3 linked regions of the Homo sapiens genome follow. The protein of the gene in region 3 purifies or fractionates together with the protein of the main gene of each other region. This does not show direct contact. Each region holds a gene or a part of one and is shown on either strand. Other genes may lie near its edges.

Region 1 (2,713 bases), on a different chromosome or scaffold from region 3:
TGAGGGCAGCCGGGGAGGCCCCCCTCCCCGCCCACCGCCCCGGCAGAGCCTCCAGGAGCAGCTGAACGGGGTCATGCCCATCGCCATGAGCATCAAGGCAGGCACGGTGGATGAGGACTCGTCAGGCTCCGAGTGAGTGTGGCCGGGTGGGCGGGACGGGGTGCAGCCCCTCGGAGGCCTCACCTGGGCCCAGAGCTGCCTCCGGGCCTCCCCAGGTGACTCTGGATGGCATTTGGAGGACAAATGGGCAGAACTGGCCCAGCTCCCTTACTATGCCGTGCCCACAAACCATGGTGCCTTGCGGGGAGGGCCACCCCTCCTAGGCTCTACGCGGCGCAGCCCAGCCTAGGGCAGAGTGCGGGAGGATGGGGAGCTGGGGGTGCTTTCCTGTTTCCTTCGTCTGGTGAAAGCTTTCACTCTCTCCTCTGTTTCAACTAACCCTCTGTCTGCCTTTTCTGCCACTTTCCTTTCCTGCCTCTCCAGATTTCTCTTCTTTAACTTCCTGCATTAACCCTGGGCCGTGGTTCCTACGCCCGAGGCTCCCTTCCCTTCCCCAGCCGCACTCATGCCCTGCTCCTGTCTTGTGCTTTATCCTGCCCCGCTCCCCATCGCCTGCCCGCAGCAGCGACGAAACGTCCATCTGAGGAGCCTGGGCCTTGCCGGGAGGGGTACTCACCCCACCTAAGGCCATCTAGTGCCAACTCCCCCCCCACCATTCCCCTCACTGCACTTTGGACCCCTGGGGCCAACATCTCCAAGACAAAGTTTTTCAGAAAAGAGGAAAAAAAGAATTTAAAAAAGGATCTCCACTCTTCATGACTTCAGGGATTCATTTTTTTTATACGCTGGAAATTGACTCCCCTTTCCCTTCCCAAAGAGGATAGGACCTCCCAGGATGCTTCCCAGCCTCTCCTCAGTTTCCCATCTGCTGTGCCTCTGGGAGGAGAGGGACTCCTGGGGGGCCTGCCCCTCATACGCCATCACCAAAAGGAAAGGACAAAGCCACACGCAGCCAGGGCTTCACACCCTTCAGGCTGCACCCGGGCAGGCCTCAGAACGGTGAGGGGCCAGGGCAAAGGGTGTGCCTCGTCCTGCCCGCACTGCCTCTCCCAGGAACTGGAAAAGCCCTGTCCGGTGAGGGGGCAGAAGGACTCAGCGCCCCTGGACCCCCAAATGCTGCATGAACACATTTTCAGGGGAGCCTGTGCCCCCAGGCGGGGGTCGGGCAGCCCCAGCCCCTCTCCTTTTCCTGGACTCTGGCCGTGCGCGGCAGCCCAGGTGTTTGCTCAGTTGCTGACCCAAAAGTGCTTCATTTTTCGTGCCCGCCCCGCGCCCCGGGCAGGCCAGTCATGTGTTAAGTTGCGCTTCTTTGCTGTGATGTGGGTGGGGGAGGAAGAGTAAACACAGTGCTGGCTCGGCTGCCCTGAGGGTGCTCAATCAAGCACAGGTTTCAAGTCTGGGTTCTGGTGTCCACTCACCCACCCCACCCCCCAAAATCAGACAAATGCTACTTTGTCTAACCTGCTGTGGCCTCTGAGACATGTTCTATTTTTAACCCCTTCTTGGAATTGGCTCTCTTCTTCAAAGGACCAGGTCCTGTTCCTCTTTCTCCCCGACTCCACCCCAGCTCCCTGTGAAGAGAGAGTTAATATATTTGTTTTATTTATTTGCTTTTTGTGTTGGGATGGGTTCGTGTCCAGTCCCGGGGGTCTGATATGGCCATCACAGGCTGGGTGTTCCCAGCAGCCCTGGCTTGGGGGCTTGACGCCCTTCCCCTTGCCCCAGGCCATCATCTCCCCACCTCTCCTCCCCTCTCCTCAGTTTTGCCGACTGCTTTTCATCTGAGTCACCATTTACTCCAAGCATGTATTCCAGACTTGTCACTGACTTTCCTTCTGGAGCAGGTGGCTAGAAAAAGAGGCTGTGGGCAGGAAAGAAAGGCTCCTGTTTCTCATTTGTGAGGCCAGCCTCTGGCTTTTCTGCCGTGGATTCTCCCCCGTCTTCTCCCCTCAGCAATTCCTGCAAAGGGTTAAAAATTTAACTGGTTTTTACTACTGATGACTTGATTTAAAAAAAATACAAAGATGCTGGATGCTAACTTGGTACTAACCATCAGATTGTACAGTTTGGTTGTTGCTGTAAATAGGGTAGCGTTTTGTTGTTGTTGTTTTTTCATGCCCCATACTACTGAATAAACTAGTTCTGTGCGGGTACAGCACTGTCACTGTCCGCTTCTGTGTGGTACCCTGTCCTCCCACAGGGAGGAAGGTCTGGTCTCTGGAAAACAGAAGAGCCGGCAGGGCCCAGAAGGCCCCACCGGGAGGTCGGGAGACTCAGACACCACTGGCTGATAAGCCTGTCCCTCTGCCCATGTCCATGACACTGCTCCCAAATAGCTGGATCAGCACAGAGCCCATTTCCTGGCATTTCCAAGGAAGACATGGTGGGCGGGCAGGAAGGTGTCCTTTTCACCAGGACGGAAAGGACTTCTACGGTGGGAGAGGCTGCACGGGGCAGGCAGCCTTCCAGCCCAGCCCCTCAGGGCTGAGTCCTAGACAGGGATGAGTTTTCTGGGGCAGAATTCAAGAAGCAGGGAGGGCTGCATTGAGAGGCTGGTTGGAATTGAATGGTGGTCAGTGACTCAGTGCCTCCTAACTATACTGCTCAGGGTTGTTTTTTGTTTTTTTTTTCCCATTGGAAAATGAAGCAGCTA
Region 2 (7,000 bases), on a different chromosome or scaffold from region 3:
TGGCAGCCACTAAATGCCCAGAGGCATACCTAAGTGTGGAGCTAAGAAACCCTCCCAGCCCCAAGTTCTCTGGACAGGGTTCGGGGGATGGCATGAGCTCCTAATCTAGGAGAGCTCCAGGTGCCTGGAGCTCTGCCTAGGCATGGAGCAGGGAGGGCCCCTCTGTATGAAAATCTCTGCACAGGAGATGTAGGTTAACTCAGGCTGTTGAAACAGGCAAACAGGTGCTTTGAATGCCTGAAAGTCCACCTGGGTGTGAAGCAGAGAGGGCCCCCCAACACCAGATCTATGAATAGGAAAGGTGGGACAGTTCAGGCTGCAATCTGGGCAAGGTGCTTTGAATGCCTGGAGGTCTGCTTAGAAATGGAGTGGATAGGGCCTGGCTGCACTGTGATGTATGCACAGGAAGGGTTGGGGTAGTATGGCCTTTAATTTATACTAAAAGTGCATGTGATTTTGCACATCCTCCCATTCCCATTATCTGGCAGAAGCTATCCATTGAGATATTATTATGTAACTGCTTTGCTAGCTTTTCTGGGTAACATATTTTATGTTCTTTTGAACTAGGGATTCACTCTGTGTGTGTGTGTGTTTGTTTAAAGGAAAGAAGGAGTGAAAGAGGGAGGAAGGGAGGGAGAGAGGGAAGAAATGAGGATAAAGGATTGCTATCATTAGTATTTTATGAGTGCTTTATCTCCTCAAGCATCAGGTAAGTCTGGAAGAGGAAAATTTCATGTTAATTGCTGCAAATCTTTGAGTGAAAATTCCTCAAAGAGATCTGTGCATGTTTGTTTATAATTACGTTTTGTGAGATGATCACTAGTAAATATACTAAAATTCTTTTAGATAGGTTTTGTGTGTGTGTATGCTTTCTCTAATTTTTTATTACATGATGCATTTTTCTTTTCCCAATAGAACCTCTGTATTACTGGCAACAGACTGAAGATGATTTGACAGTAACCATACGGCTTCCAGAAGACAGTACTAAGGAGGACATTCAAATACAGTTTTTGCCTGATCACATCAACATTGTACTGAAGGATCACCAGTTTTTAGAAGGAAAACTCTATTCATCTATTGATCATGAAAGCAGTACATGGATAATTAAAGAGAGTAATAGGTATTTTTTTTTAATTTTACTTTAATATTCTATTATCTTTTTTTCTTTTCTTTTTACTCTTTCCACAGTGGTTACATCAGAGATTAATACAATAGTTCTGTCTGTATTGCTGGTTACTTTTCTTAAGATATATTAAAAATAGAATTACTGTGTCAAAGAGCATATTTCTAGTTGAAATTAAAGATAGTAGCATAGCTATCACTTGGAGAATATGGTAGTGCTTTGTTTTACCAGCTCTGGATACAATAATAATCATAGGTGAAAATGGCTATTTTAAATTGCACTTTTTCAAACTTTTTAATAGAAATAATTTTTTTAACTTTAGTTTGCTGGCTTGATAATATATTTCCATTCTTTAAAATTTTAAATATACAAAAGGATGTAGAGTGAGAAGTCTGCCTCCAACACAAGCCTATGGGTCACCCATCCTCCCACTCCTCACAATCAGTGTTGTTACATTTTACATACATTCAAGCATGACACATACTTTTTCCTTTTCTTTAAGGAAAACTACTTTTGGCGGCTAGCTGCAGTGGCTCACGCCTGTAATCCCAACATTTGGGATGCTGAGGTAGGAGGATTGCTTGAGGCCAGGAGTTTGTGACCAGCCTAGGCAAGAAGAGAAAACCCTGTCTCTAACAACAATAAAAAAGTTTTTTGACACATACTTTACACAATTATACATCTTGCTTTTGTTCACTTGCAATGATAAATCTTAGGGATCTTTCCATAATGAATATATAAAAATTATTAAATTCTCTTTTATGACATCACGGTATTTTATTCTATCAACTGCACCATCATTTTAGACAATTAATCCTCTATTGTGTTAATTTAGGTTGTTTTCAATAACTTCTGTTTATATACATATTATTTCACATGTGTAGAAATATATATGAAGGATAAATTTCTAAAAGTGGAATAATTAATATTTCTTTGTAAATTGTAGTAATTTTTTCTTATGTAAATTCTCCATTTACATTTGTTTTTTGAACTGTGTGTTCAGGACACAAAGCCATAAAAGAAATACATAAGTGGCCAGGCACAGTGGCTCATGCCTGTAATCCCAGCACTTTGGGAGGCTGAGGCGGGTGGATTGCCTGAGGTCAGGAGTTCGAGACCAGCCTGACCAACATGGTGAAACCCCGTCTCAACTAAAAACACAAAAATTAGCTGGGCGTGGTGGCGGGTGCCTGTAATCCCAGCTACTTGGGAGGCTGAGACAGGAGAACTACTTGAACCCGGGAGGCGGAGGTTTCCGAGACCAGGCCATTGCTTTCCGGCCCTGGGCAATAAGAGTGAAACTACGTCTCAAAAAAAAAAGAAAGAAATACATAAGTTAGACTTCATCAAAACAGACATTTTCTGCATATCAAAATTAAAAATTTTTGTTCTTCTAAAGATACCATTAAGAGAACAAAAAGGTAAGCCATGAACTGGGAAAAAATATTCACAGTATTCATCTTAAACCAAAGGACTTTCATTCTTAGTGTATAAGGAAGCCTTACAAATTCATAATAAGCCAATTTTTTAAATGGTCAAATTATTTGAATAGACATGTCACAATAGAAGATAGATGAACAGCTAGTAAGCACATCAAAAGGTAATTATCATTAGACATTAGGAAAATTAAAACTAGAGTGAGACACCAATACATGACTAAAACTTTGAAGACTGACAGTATCAAACGTTGGCAAGGATGTGGGGCACCAGCAACTCATTCATATCTGGTACGAGTGTAAAATAATAATACAATCACTTTGGCAGACTGTTTAGCAGTTTCATATCAAGTTAAACATATACCTATTTTTAATCTTAACAATTCTACTCCTTGATGTTTAACCAAAATAAATGAATGTATATAATTTTTTGTTTTTCTGAGACAGGGTCTCACTCTGTTGCCCAGGATGGAGTGCAGTGGCACAGTCACTCAGCTAATTTTTGTATTTTTTGTAGAGATGGGGTTTTGCCATGTTGCTCAGACTGGTCTCGAACTCCTGACCTCAAGCGATCTGCCTGCTTCGACCTCCCAAAGTGCTAGGATTACAGGTGTGAGCCACCATGCCCAACTGAAAATATATGTTAAAAAACAAAACAAAGCCAAAACAAATTTGCAAACATATATTCATAGCAGGCATACTTATAAAAGCCAGAAATATCTCTAGTGTTACTGAAAAGGTGAATGGATAAGTACGTGTGGTATATTCATACAATGGAATGTTACTCTGTAATAAAGTGCTAGCAATAAATAAAAAGCAATATGAATGAATTAAAAACATGTGGAGTGAAAGAAGCCAAAGACAAAAAATCATACTGTATGATTCCACATATGGAGTTCTAGAACTGGCAAAACTAATCTATGGTGATACAAATCAGAACACTTGTTATCTCTAGGGTGTAGGGAGATTGACTGAAGAAAGGCCAAGGGAACTGCCTGTATGGTGGAAATAATTCAGTATCCTCATTGGGTTACAAAGGTGTATGCATTTGTCAAAATCAGTAAATTCTACACTTAAAACCTGTGAATTTTATTTATAAATTACACCTCAATTAAAGGAGCAAAACTGTGTCTTTTTAAAAAAAGATAAAGTTAAGTGTCTTTTAAAATTATAATCCTTTGCCCCCCACAACTGTGCCATTTTGCAAATCTATTATTCCAGGCAGTTTTTTCCCCAATTATTTGGATTACTAAAATTACTTTCTTTTATTTTAAATCAAGTCTTAGTAATTATTAAATTCAGTGATGGATTAATGAATAGAGTTAGGCAGTTAATTTTTTAAATAGTCAAATTTGGTCAGAAATGAGAAATGGTTGATTTAAAATACAACCTAAATCTTGTGCTTTAAGTTGATGTTACATAGAGGATAACTTAGATGTTTTTACACAAAGTATAGTTCTTAATTAGTAGTATATGATCCATGTGAGTCTGATACAAGTCTAAATCATGAGCATCCAAGAAAAATATATCTAGCTCATAGAAAGTTTGAAGTTGTAAAAGGTATCTTACATTTTATTAATGAAGACATTTGGTGATTTTGTTACACTTTTTAATATATCAAAAATAATTGCTTGAAAGTTTCTTTTAAAAGTATTTTGTATCTCCACATACTCCATTTAATTATGTTTATGTGTATGTGAGTCACATTTACAAATTGGCAAGCCAACTAGAACATATTGTTAAATGTAAGTCATCAAGCAGTAACCCAGCAAAGGTCTGGGGGAATAGCTTGACTTCATGTAAGTAGTTTCAGCATTCAATGCATCAACATAGATCAGTATTATTTTTCCATTAAATTTGAGGTGTTTGATTATTATTTTGTGTTAAAAAAGATAACTACAATGTAGCGTAGGTGGTATTGTTGTTTTAAAAACACGATTTTCTGTACTTGAGTAAATTATTCGTACCTCTCGTTTTCAAAAGTTACTGTTGTCTCACTTTGGAAAGATTTTTTTAACTAATCTGTAGTTTATTATATTTGGCATTGTTTGGGGTTTTTTTTTTGCTTGGATGGTAGCATACAATACTAGTTTTAAAACGTACAAATGCAGTCTTAGAAGAAGGGTGCACTGATTAACTGTGCAAATTAATGATGGTTTGGAAATTATAACAGATTGTATCAACTCTTTCAGACCTCTTTAGGTAGCAACTAAGAACAGTTCACTGGGTAAGTGTTCTTTAATAGTTATTTACATATATTTTTTCAGAGAGGCAGAATAGTGCAGTAGTGAAGAACATGGACTTAGAGCCAGACTGTTTAAATAGCTTGTGACCTTGGCAAGTTGCTTAACCTCAGTACTTTTTTTTCTTACTTGTAAAATGGTGATGATAATAATATTTACAGTACTTTATTTGGTTGTTGTAACCAATGAGTTAAAACATGTAAAGTGCTTAAGACAGCACCTGACATATAGGTAAGTATAAGCTATGGTCATTATTACTATTATTATCATCATCATTATTATCAAGATTACCTTTATCCTTAGAAAATGTAACTCAGTCTGGGGGCTGGGCACGGTGGCTCACACCTATAATCCTAGCACTTTGGGAGACCAAGGCAGGCAGATCACTTGAGGCCAGGAGTTTAAGATCAGCCTGGCCAACATGACAAAACCCTGTCTCTACTAAAAATACAAATATTAGCCAGGTGGGCATGATGGCGTGGCCTGTAATCCCAGCTACTTACTTGGGAGGCTGAGGCACGAGAGTCACTTGAACCCGGGAGTTGGAGGTTGCAGTAAGAGAGATTGTGCCATTGCACTGCAGCCTGGGCAAGAGAGTGAGACTCTGTCTCAAAAAAAGAAAAGATGTAACTAAATCTGGGCTTTTATTGTGGGAGTAATTTTCAGTGCTAATTATAAGTACTCATATTATTATTTTGTATAGTCTCTTAAAATAGGTAGTTTCAGAAAAATGTTAAATGCTGTAATTCATAAGGTAGTGATTGTAACAGTCTTGAAAAAGAACAGCTGGTAAGTTTGCGTGTCCTATTTGATAACTATAATAGTTATTATTGTATTCTTGCAGTTGTGTTCCAGGGCATGAGCTAATATGGTACATGTGTACGAAAGATGGCACATGGAAAAGGTTGCTTTGTTGTGGAATAGCTATTACCACTCCCCTTTTCTGTTATAGCAGTGGGTGCTCCCAAAGCATCTTACTTGGGTTTTCCTTCCTATTCCAGAGGAACATGGGACAAGTTACTTCTTCTCCTATGTCCGTAGTCTGCCTTGACTCTGCTCTCTTTCCCTTTCCTGCTGCATCAGTCCTTGATCTCAGGGTTCCCTGACAGACCATTTTAAGTGCATCTGGAATTGTTTAGTTGTTTACATGTACAGAATTAGATTTTAAATAAGTTAATAGAGAACACATTAACATCTTTTTTCCCTGTATTACCAAAGTTAATTTTTTTCCTTATTTCTACTTTTCAGTTATTTAACATCTGTATTTTAAAATTAAGATTTGCGTTGATTTAACCTGCTTGATCTTCAGGTTAATAATCATATATTATGGCTCTTAGTTTGTGAAAATAAAGTTAATTGTTGATTCCAGACACAAAGAATTATCCTTTAATTACAGCCCTTTTACTCTTTGCTTACATGCCCACACCCCCGACCATTCCCCAGATGTCTTATAGATCCATGCTTCTTGTATTTCTATTAAGTTCAGGAACATACTGCATACCAGTACTTTCTGGATGACTTGACTCTTTCCAGGCAATCCTCTCTTCAGGCCATTTGATGTACCATTTCCAGTGGTACTTTCTTTCTTTATTAAATCTGGACTATTTGCCATTGGATTATAGGTTTTCCATCACATGCAAAACTTAAATGAGCAAGATTTTTGGTAAACCATCCTCTGGACACCGGAGGGTTCTTTCTATAGAAGATAGAAACAAACAATGTTTGCTACTGATTGTATAATTTGTATAATTGCTTAATGTAACATTACTTTTCCCATTTAAACTTCTAGCTTGGAGATTTCCTTGATTAAGAAGAATGAAGGACTGACCTGGCCAGAGCTAGTAATTGGAGATAAACAAGGGGAACTTATAAGAGATTCAGCCCAGTGTGCTGCAATAGCTGAACGTTTGATGCATTTGACCTCTGAAGAACTGGTAAGTAGTTGGAATAGTAGTGTGACTTTCCAAGGGTCCAAAAATATGTTATGTGAAGATTATGCCATGCTTTTCAAACAATATTTTGCTTTTCCTAATATAAAAGATACATATCAGATACTACTGATCTGAGTGATGTTTGAATATGGCCTAAGTTCTAATATTTATTTCTTACACTATGTAAATACATACATATATGTGTGGTCATACTGTATAGAGGGTTTGCCTGTATCTGTTTATGTGTGCGTATGTATTGTGCGCTCT
Region 3 (8,854 bases):
ACACGGACACACACACACACACACACAAACGGACACACACACACACACCCACGCAATAAATGAATTAGCATGCAGGTCAGATGAGCATGCATGTCTGTACAGACCTGCACTCTTCAATATGAAGGCCACAGGCCACACGTGGCTACTGAGCATGTGAAATGAGGCTAGTCCAGGTTGAGAGGTGCTATAAGTGTAAAATGCACACCAGATTTTGAAGAGAAATACTCACTAGTATAAGAAGAGAATGTAAAACATCCCAGTAATTTTTAGATCAGTTACCTGTTGAAATGGTAATATTTTATATATATTGAGTTAAATAAATTATGAAAATGAATTTCACCTGCTTCTTTTTAATGTGGCTACTATAAAATTTTAAATTATATTTGTGGCTTGTATTAATCTCCATTACACAGTGCTTGGAGTACAAATTATCTTTTTAAAAGTGAGGAAGGAGAAGAAAAGCAAGTAGCAGGCCTAGAGACTAGTATCCATTAGACACCTAAACTTAAACAAATGTCTTCCCAGGACTCTTATCAAAAGAGAAGAAGAAAAGCCAAGCAGGAGAGTGGGGAGATCACAGGCTTTGGAATGTGGTGGCCCCGGGAGGTTCTATCATCCTTAGCTATGAAACCCAGGGACAACTACTATGACTTCTCCAAACCCCCTATTCTACTGTAAAATAGCAACAAAAATAATAGGCTTGGGAAGTGCTTTAGAGCTTGCTACATACTACAGTCCCTAACAGAGGATCGATACTGTTGGTGCAGCTGCATGGAAACTGTAACCAAGAAGAGACCCCTGCACCTCTCCAATCGCTACCTTTGTATCCACCACTTGCCCTCCCCTACCCACCACCTCTCAACTTAACCTTCCCAAACACAGCACAGACTATCTGAGTCACAATTTCAAAAATATGTCCCTTAAATTGCTCACTCACATCAGAAAAATGATGACTTCCTCTGGTATTCAGTACCCAGCCTGCCCTCAGAGAATCAACAAGTCAAGTGTGCCCCAAAATTCTGCTCTAGTGAAAGTAAGGACTTCCTCCAGCACCTCATATTAAGCCATTCAAATTTATCACTGTGGATCATCTAATTCTATACATGGATCAAGTATCTTTTTCTACAAAAACTTCTGTAAAGAAAAGCCAGGTGCAGTGGCCTGGGCCTGTCGTCCCAGATGCTTGGGAGGCTGAGGTGGGAGGATAACTTGAGGGCAGGAGCCTGAGGCTGCAGTGAGCTATGATTACGCCTGTGAATAGCCAGTGCAGTCCAGCCTGGGCAACATCGTGAGACCCCATCTTTAAAACAAAAAAAATCGTGGCTCACGCCTGTAATCCCAGCACTTGGGAGGCCGAGACGGGTGGATCAGGAGGTCAGGAATTCAAGACCAGCCTGGCGAAGATGTTTCTCTACTAAAAATACAAAAAAACTAGCCAGGCATGGTGGCAGGCGCCTGTAATCCCAGCTACGCAGGAGGCTGAGGCAGAGAATTGCTTGAACACGGGAGGCAGAGGTTGGAGTGAGCCGAGATCGCGCCACTGCACTCCAGCCTGGGCAACAGAGCAAGACTTGGTCTCAAAAAAAAAAAAAAACAAAAAACAAAAAACTTCTGTAAAGAAATTTCAGAAGCTTATTTAAAAAAAAGCATTATAAGTTGTCTGATTTGAGAAAATAAAAGAGCCTTTTCTCATGAGAATTATCAAAGACTTCTCACCAACTGAACAATCACTGCTGCGTCACATGCAGACAATTCAACGGAATCAAAAAATACACAGAAGCCTCGCAGACTCACCTGGGATGTGCAGACTTGGGCCTGCTGTCCTACTGCGGCATGGAACCAGGATCTTAACGGAGGGCTGAGTTTGGTTGGGCAGGTGCTACGCGGAGCTCCTGAATGTAAGCGCTCCTGGACTGTGGCCTGTTCAAACACCGAAGCCGCAGAGCGGGCGTCAGAGCCTGTGGGAGGGACAGGGAGACCATCAGTGGAGGCGACTCTTCCTGTGCCTTCTCTTCAGCTACTTCCCAGGGATGCGGCGCGCACCGGGAACCCTCTACCACGAAAAAGCCGTCCAAGGAGCATCCACGCGTGCACTCAGGATGAGGCGGGTGGACCGTACTACCTCATCACCAGTTGTTGTAATGCACACGATATGAACACCTTAACCTTGACCCCAGACAAGCCCAGAGAAGGAAAACCTCCCCAACACCTGCCAGTCAGCTCCAGTCTAATCTTATTTCCAAAGAGTAAGAGGTAATAAATCCCCAAGTTTTGGATTTAATGAACCAGTAAAACTTCAATAACAACAACAACAAACCTCAGGGAGTAATAGGAGTTGCCAAAATTTTGCTTTGCTAAGTGTGGATTTTCTCTTTCATTACCATCTACGATCACTATGATTACATAAAATTAAGGTTCGTAAAAACAGTTTACAGTGAAAACATTCAAACACACAGATGGAGAACCGCACAGGGAGCACATGAGCCCCCCTTATTCAGCCTCAGTAACTACATCTGACCCATCCTGAGTCACTTCCCATCCCCAGGTAATTCTACAGCAAATCTCAGACCTATGACTTCATCCATAAATAAAAGCATACCAACTCCCGAAAAATGTGTAAGGAAATGATCTCAGAATAAAAGCCATCTACAAAGTGAAGACATCCAGTCGTATTAAAAACTCCCCACAATATCACTGCTTTCGGTTAGGACTCACATCTACCCTGGAAGGTGAGAACTCTGTCATGCACAACCAACGCTTGAGAACCACTTAGGGAGGGGATAAACGAACCTTGGGAGATGTAACCCAGTTTCACTCGAGATAAGTAACTTTGAACTTAACCCACTCCTTAATGTAGATGCAGAGATTTTGAACACAATTTTTCAAGTGGGACAGGTCAATCTCTACTTCACCAATTCCACCTAAAACATTAAGCAATAACCTAAACAACGCTCGCTCGCTCTCTGACGTGTAGGAGCCCGAGACAAGTGTTCCTGTAATCACTAGCAATCCCTCCGACGCACACACCATCCACACTCTACCCAACTCAGGAAGGATGCTCTCTCTTGTCCAAGGACAGCACAGGCCTCATCCACATTTCCACCTGCGCGAACCCCAGCCAGCACCATTTAGGCTCATTCCCGCTCCCTCCTCCTTCTAAAGTCACTTTTCCAGGATGAACTGCAACGGACGCTCGCAGGGTCAACCACGTGCTGGGGAGAGGAGCCCACGGAAGCAGCGGCCTCCCGGGGCCCAGCGCCGCGCTCCAGGGGCCTCCCGGGCGACTCCGCAGCGCCTGCCCCGAGCCCGGCCGCGGACACAGCGACCCGAGCACCTCTCCCCGAGCATGGCTCCGTGGCGAGCGTTACGTAAACGGGGGCGCGCGGAGTCTCCCCTCTCGTGTGTCTGGGTTTGGCGGCCGCCACTCCAGCCCCAGGCCCAGGACCCCCACGCCACCCGCCAGAAGCAGCAGCATCGGAACCGCACCCCGCCCCGGGCTCCATGGCCTCCTCCGCAACCACGAGGAAGGTGCCCGCCCCGGGGCCGCACCCGCCCCGCTGAGCTCTGCGGCCGCACGCGACGCCCTCGCCCTGATTCCGACTTCAACCTCTCCGAAGTTGACCTGAATCCTGCACAGACAGCGGGCCCCGGCGACCCCCATCACCGGCCCGGAGCCCGGGGGACGGCGGAGACCGGCGAGGACAGCCCGGCCCCGGACCCTCCTCGGGAATACCCGGGCTCTGGAGAAGCGAGCTCGCGAGCGGGCGGAGCATCCCGGGTCCTCCTCGGGGACGGCCGAAGCCCTGCGCGGACCCGCGCCCACGTTCTCCCTGAGCGTCCCGGCTGCGCCCGCCAGCCCTTCCCGCGCCCCAGGCCTCGCGGAACCCCCCGCCCCGGTCTCGTCCCCAGGCCTGCGCACCGCCCCGACCCGACCCCAGCCTACCCCGGCCTCTCCGCGGGCGCGCCACAAGCCTACGCAGCCCTGGCGACTCCTTCGGCCCGCGGCCCAGCACGCGCACCATCCGGGCCTCCGGCGCCTCACACACGTGTCACCGCGACGCTTAAAGGCGCCGCACCCAGCGTTCGCGCTGCGCTAACTCCGAAAGGGTTGGGAGGCTTTAAGAGGCGGGGCTAGATTCCGCTAACTCCCTGTCCCCGCCCACCGCCGCTTCCGTGTCGCCTACGTCACCTCCCCATCACGGGACCCCGCCAGCCTACGTGATGACGCAAGTGCGCAGAGCCACAGGCGCTCCCGCCCCTGTGCCGCGGCAGGGTGACGTCTCCGCAGCGCACTAGAGGTGCCGCTACTTCCGGGTCGGCCGAGCACACCTGGCGGCGTGGCGGACGCCTGAAGTGTGACAGTGGCGCGCGCCCCCGCCCCAGAACGGGGACTCGAGGGACTTTGCCCACCCCTGCAACAGCCCTCCCGCGCTGTCTCCCGGGCAGGGAGAAGGCTGGGCTCCCCCACCTGCCCCTGGCCGTCAGGTGGCTGTGGAGAAGCGGAGGCGCGGGCGCTCGGCCTTAACGTCCCGGGCTCTGGGGCCATCCGTGACTCCCACACGCGGAGCACCTGCAGTTTGGGGAGGGAGGGATCTGGGAGCGATCGGCCAAAGCCTGGGGCTGCCGAGGAAATGGCTCTTCGGAATTAGGGATCTGAGAGTGTGAGATTTGACCTTTGTAGGCTGGTGGCGGCTGTGCAATCTCTAGCTCCACCCACTCCCTCCAAAAGCTTTGTCCTCTGACAGCTCTGCGAAGGTTTTAGCTGAGTATTTGTGAGCACGTATTTCTTTTGCAGTATTTTTAAAAATCCTCTTGATCTGAGGCAACTTCGCTGGCTTCCTCCCCATTCCCTTGGGCAGGTTGAGAGTGTTGGTTCCTGGCCTGACCTCAGAAACTCAGAGAAGCACAGGATGGGCATAAACTACTTTATCCAAAAGGCAGAACTTTGCAAACACAGTCGTATCTGCTGTGTCTTTTTTGATGTAAGTAGGAATGATGAGTAGGGTGAAGTCACAGGTAAACAACCCAAAACGAATTTCCATGCCCTCCCCACGGATCCTAAAGCAGGGACTGGAGATGGGGAGAGAGGCTAGATGTACTTGGAACAAAATTCACCTTGTATTTATTACCTGGGCGCTGGTGTTTTTTGAAAAAAGCAAACAAGATAACCATATTAGTCTGATGCTGAGACTATGCCCTATCTGTAAGAATCCTTGGGCTGGGCGCGGTGGCTCACCCTTGTAATCCCAACACTTGGAGGCCAAGGTGGGCGGATCACCTGAGGTCAGGAGTTCGAGACCAGCATGGCCAACATGGTGAAACCCCGTCTCTACTAAACATACAAAAATTAGCTGGGTGTGGTGGTGGGCGCCTGTAATCCCAGCTACTCAGGAGGCTGAGGCACGAGAATCCCTTGAACCTAGGAGGCGGAGGTTGCAGCGAGCTGAGATGTCGCCACTGCACTCCAGCCTGGGCGACAGAGCGAGACTCCGTCTCAAAAGAAAAGAAAAGAAAAGAAAAAAAGGCAGGGCACAGTGGCTCACGCCTGTAATCCTAGCACTTTGGGAGGCCGAGGCAGGCAGATCGCTTGAGGTCAGGAATTCCAGACCAGCCTGGCCAACATGGTGAAAACCTGTCTCTACTAAAAATACAAAAATTAGCTGGGTATGGTGGCGCACGCCTGTAATCCGAGCTACTAGGGAGGCTGAGACAGGAGAATCGCTTGTACCTGGGAGGTGGAGGTTGCAATGAGCTGAGATCGTGCCATTGCACTCCAGCAGCCTGGACAACAGAGCAATACTTGGTCTAAAAAAAAAAAAAAGAAAGAAATGCAACGTAGGTCTCTCACGAAATTAGCCCAAATCTTCAGCCATCTTCTACAGGCTGTGAAACCAGGAGAGGAATTGAGTCCATCTTACCTTGACCTCCCAGGCAGGGAGCGGACCAGGTAATTTTTGGGTGACAATACAACTATTCTGTTAATGCACCTTTTTCTTGAGGTAAGTTCTAATGTGATCCGTTTTGGTTACAGCTTTCTATAACAGAATATTTTATTCTTTCATCTTTAATGTTTCTCTAGTTTTCTCTTTTAGGATTTAGAGATCATTCAGTCTCATCTCAAATATTTCAATTTCCATGTGGTTCTTTCATAAACATTTATCCACAGTGAGCCTGCCCTGCATTCTTTGGGTGTGGCTGACAGTTGCAGCCACCCTCAGGTCTGCGGGGGTGGGTGTGTTGCCCCTGAACTGCAATAGCAGAATTTCTCCCTAGCCTGGCAGGGGAGTGCAATCGTGGACTTGCTTTTCCACCCGCTGGGGTTGCATTTCATAGGTGCCGAGTGCCTGGGGGGCCCAGGCCTTTTCACATGAGGGTTTTCAGCCCAGATGTCCCTCCTGCTCTAGGGGAACCCTTCACATCAGTCAGGTGACTTGCTGGACTGGTAGAGCCTCTGCCATCAGCCTCTGATGCAAAACCTTTTCTCAGGTGTCTGTGCGGTCCATGGAGACCCGAGTTCCCAGGTTTGGGAGGGATGCCACTTTCCTTAGGAAGAACAGCAATGTATGTCGTCCTTCCCATCCATGCAGATGGGACAGGGCTCTCAGGAAATCTGCCATTAGCATCGCCCTAGAAGATGCACAGGCAGAGGCAGCTGCTGGGCACAGGCACTTGGGGAAGACAGGAGCCATGACGCCACGCCACCTGTTGGTACCCAAAGGAAGTGGCTCTTTTGGCTGCTTGGCACCATTCTTATGACCCTTCCATTTTGTTTCTAGTCTCAGAAGGGGTGGAGAAAGTCATCCTTCCTAAATGGTGTTGACTCTCAGACATCTGACCGTGCCAGGAGAATGGCTGTGCAAGGCGGCAGCCCAGGCCCGGGCAGGTGGCGGCCAGGAGTTGGGACCACAGAGGGCACTAGCAAGAGCAGCAGCTGCTCCGAGATGCTTTGGCACAAGTCAGGATACGTATTTTGTAGTTTTCTCTTGTTTTTTATTTTTCTGAGGTGGAGTCTCACTCTGTCGCCCAGGCTGGAGTGCAGTGGTGCAATCTCAGCTCACTGCAAGCTCCGCCTCCCGGGTTCAAGCGATTATCGTGTCTCGGCCTCCAGAGTAGCTGGGATCACAGGTGCACGCCACCACACCCAGCTGATTTTTGTATTTTTAGTAGAGATGGGGTTTCGCCATGTTTGGTCTTGAACTCTTGGCCTCAGGTGATCTGCCCCCCTCAGCCTCCCAGAGTGCAAGGATTACAGGCGTGAGCCACCGCACCCCACCTCCCGGCCTTTTCTCTTGTTTCATTTTGGTAAACTAAATTAGTTTAATACCTCTACCCCATCGGTGGTTGGAATTCCCCACCTCAATCATTTTGGGGGCTCTCTGCCTCCTTTGAATAGGACAGATCTCCAGGGGTTTACCCAGGCTCCGAAGAGCCACTCCAGGCAGCCGGCTGTTTGGGGAGGTGCACCCTGGTCTTCTAGTCTGCGGATTCCCTGCATCGCTCCCCTGGTACTGCTCTCAAGCTCAAGGGTCACCTCAGCCAGATGTGCCCTAGGCTGGCAGAGGTCCTTCCCCTAAATGCAGCTGGGCAGGATGCCACCCTTTCTACAATAAGTTCGGTCCCAGGGATTCCCCCAACACACACACACATACATTCTCTCTTACTCACATCCTCACACACACTCACACACCCCACCACACTCACACACTTTCAAAATCCACCGACTCTCACGCTCACACTCGCCAGCCCTTTCCCTTGCTCTGTCACTTCCCTCCAAGTCCCCGCCCCACACAGCCTCCTGCAGTCCCAGCCCCCTTGGTGCCAGCCATCTCTGGTGCCAGCCATCTCCCCCAAATATCCACCCTTCTGGGCTCCTTTCTGCCCAGAGGGACCTGAAGTTTCCCTAGGAAGCACTTGCTAAAGGCCTCCAGTCTCCAACTCCTGGGGAAGAAGGATCCAGGCCTCTGCCGCACAAAGCCTCCACTGTTCTCTTGGGGCTGGCACCCCTTCCTGTGGCCCTGTGGCACCAAACAAATTGATTCATCCAGCGAATATTTCTTATTTACTCTGTTCCACATGGTGGTGAGTGAATCAACCCTGGACTCTCCCCACAAAGGACTTAAGAACACGCAGGTCATGAACAAATGAACACTTTTGCATAATTTTTATGACCAACGGTGACCAGGCCAAGAGCAGGATGAGGTGATGGAGAATACCTTGGCCTGGGGCATCGGAGGAAACTCTTGCGAGGATGTGCTACCTCCGTTGAAAGTGGGAAGATGAGAGACCGGCTGTAAGAGGAGCAAGGGAAGGAGGTTCTGGAATGAGAGAACAGCACGAACAAAATGCCCGAGACAGGAGCGAGCTTGGCACCTTCAAGAAAATAAAGAGGAGAATCACTGAACCTGGCACGTGGAGGTTGCAATGAGCTGAGATCGCGCCACTGCACTCCAGCCTGCGAGACAGAGCGAGACTCCATCTCAAAAAAAAAAAAAAAAAAAAAAAGGAAAGAAAAGGAGGCCATTGGGATGGCTGAGGCTGGAAGGGTGGACCAGGTGCCCCACAGGCAAGAGGTCCCAACTATAGATGAAGCACGCAGGCTACAGACAGGTGAGTGGTGCCTCGGGTGAGAGGCAAGTTTGTCTCCATAGGTCATCCTGCTACACGGAATTCTCCAGAATCCCCTGCAAAGGTGTAGATGGGCTGGGTGCAGTAGCTCATGCCTCTAATCCCAGCACTTTGGGAGGTCGAGTCGGGCGGATCACCTTGAGGTCAGAAGTTCAAGACCAGCCTGACTAACATGGTGAAACCCTGTCTCAACTAGAATACAAAAATTAGCTGGGCATGGTGGCATTTG

The links. Proteins that work in one complex are often made in the same cells at the same time.
Region 1: the proteins of USP36 (region 3) and CELSR2 purify together in Homo sapiens (affinity purification with mass spectrometry; 3 studies listed by BioGRID and IntAct, with this or other methods). This does not show direct contact.
Region 2: the proteins of USP36 (region 3) and NUDCD1 purify together in Homo sapiens (affinity purification with mass spectrometry; 2 studies listed by BioGRID and IntAct, with this or other methods). This does not show direct contact.

The regions. Positions count from the first base shown.
Region 1 is NC_000001.11:109,273,539-109,276,251, forward strand, and holds the end of CELSR2 (cadherin EGF LAG seven-pass G-type receptor 2 precursor), read left to right. Parts: coding exon 1-132; intron 133-483; coding exon 484-511; 3' UTR 512-2,213; downstream 2,214-2,713. UniProt on the Homo sapiens protein: Receptor that may have an important role in cell/cell signaling during nervous system formation.
Region 2 is NC_000008.11:109,275,088-109,282,087, reverse strand, and holds part of NUDCD1 (nudC domain-containing protein 1), read left to right. Parts: intron 1-915; coding exon 916-1,120; intron 1,121-6,591; coding exon 6,592-6,736; intron 6,737-7,000.
Region 3 is NC_000017.11:78,836,793-78,845,646, forward strand, and holds the start of USP36 (ubiquitin carboxyl-terminal hydrolase 36), read right to left. Parts: upstream 4,023-8,854; 5' UTR 3,944-4,022; exon of another isoform or gene 3,487-3,943; intron 3,219-3,486; exon of another isoform or gene 3,047-3,218; intron 1,959-3,046; 5' UTR 1,795-1,958; intron 280-1,794; exon of another isoform or gene 105-279; intron 1-104. UniProt on the Homo sapiens protein: Deubiquitinase essential for the regulation of nucleolar structure and function. Required for cell and organism viability.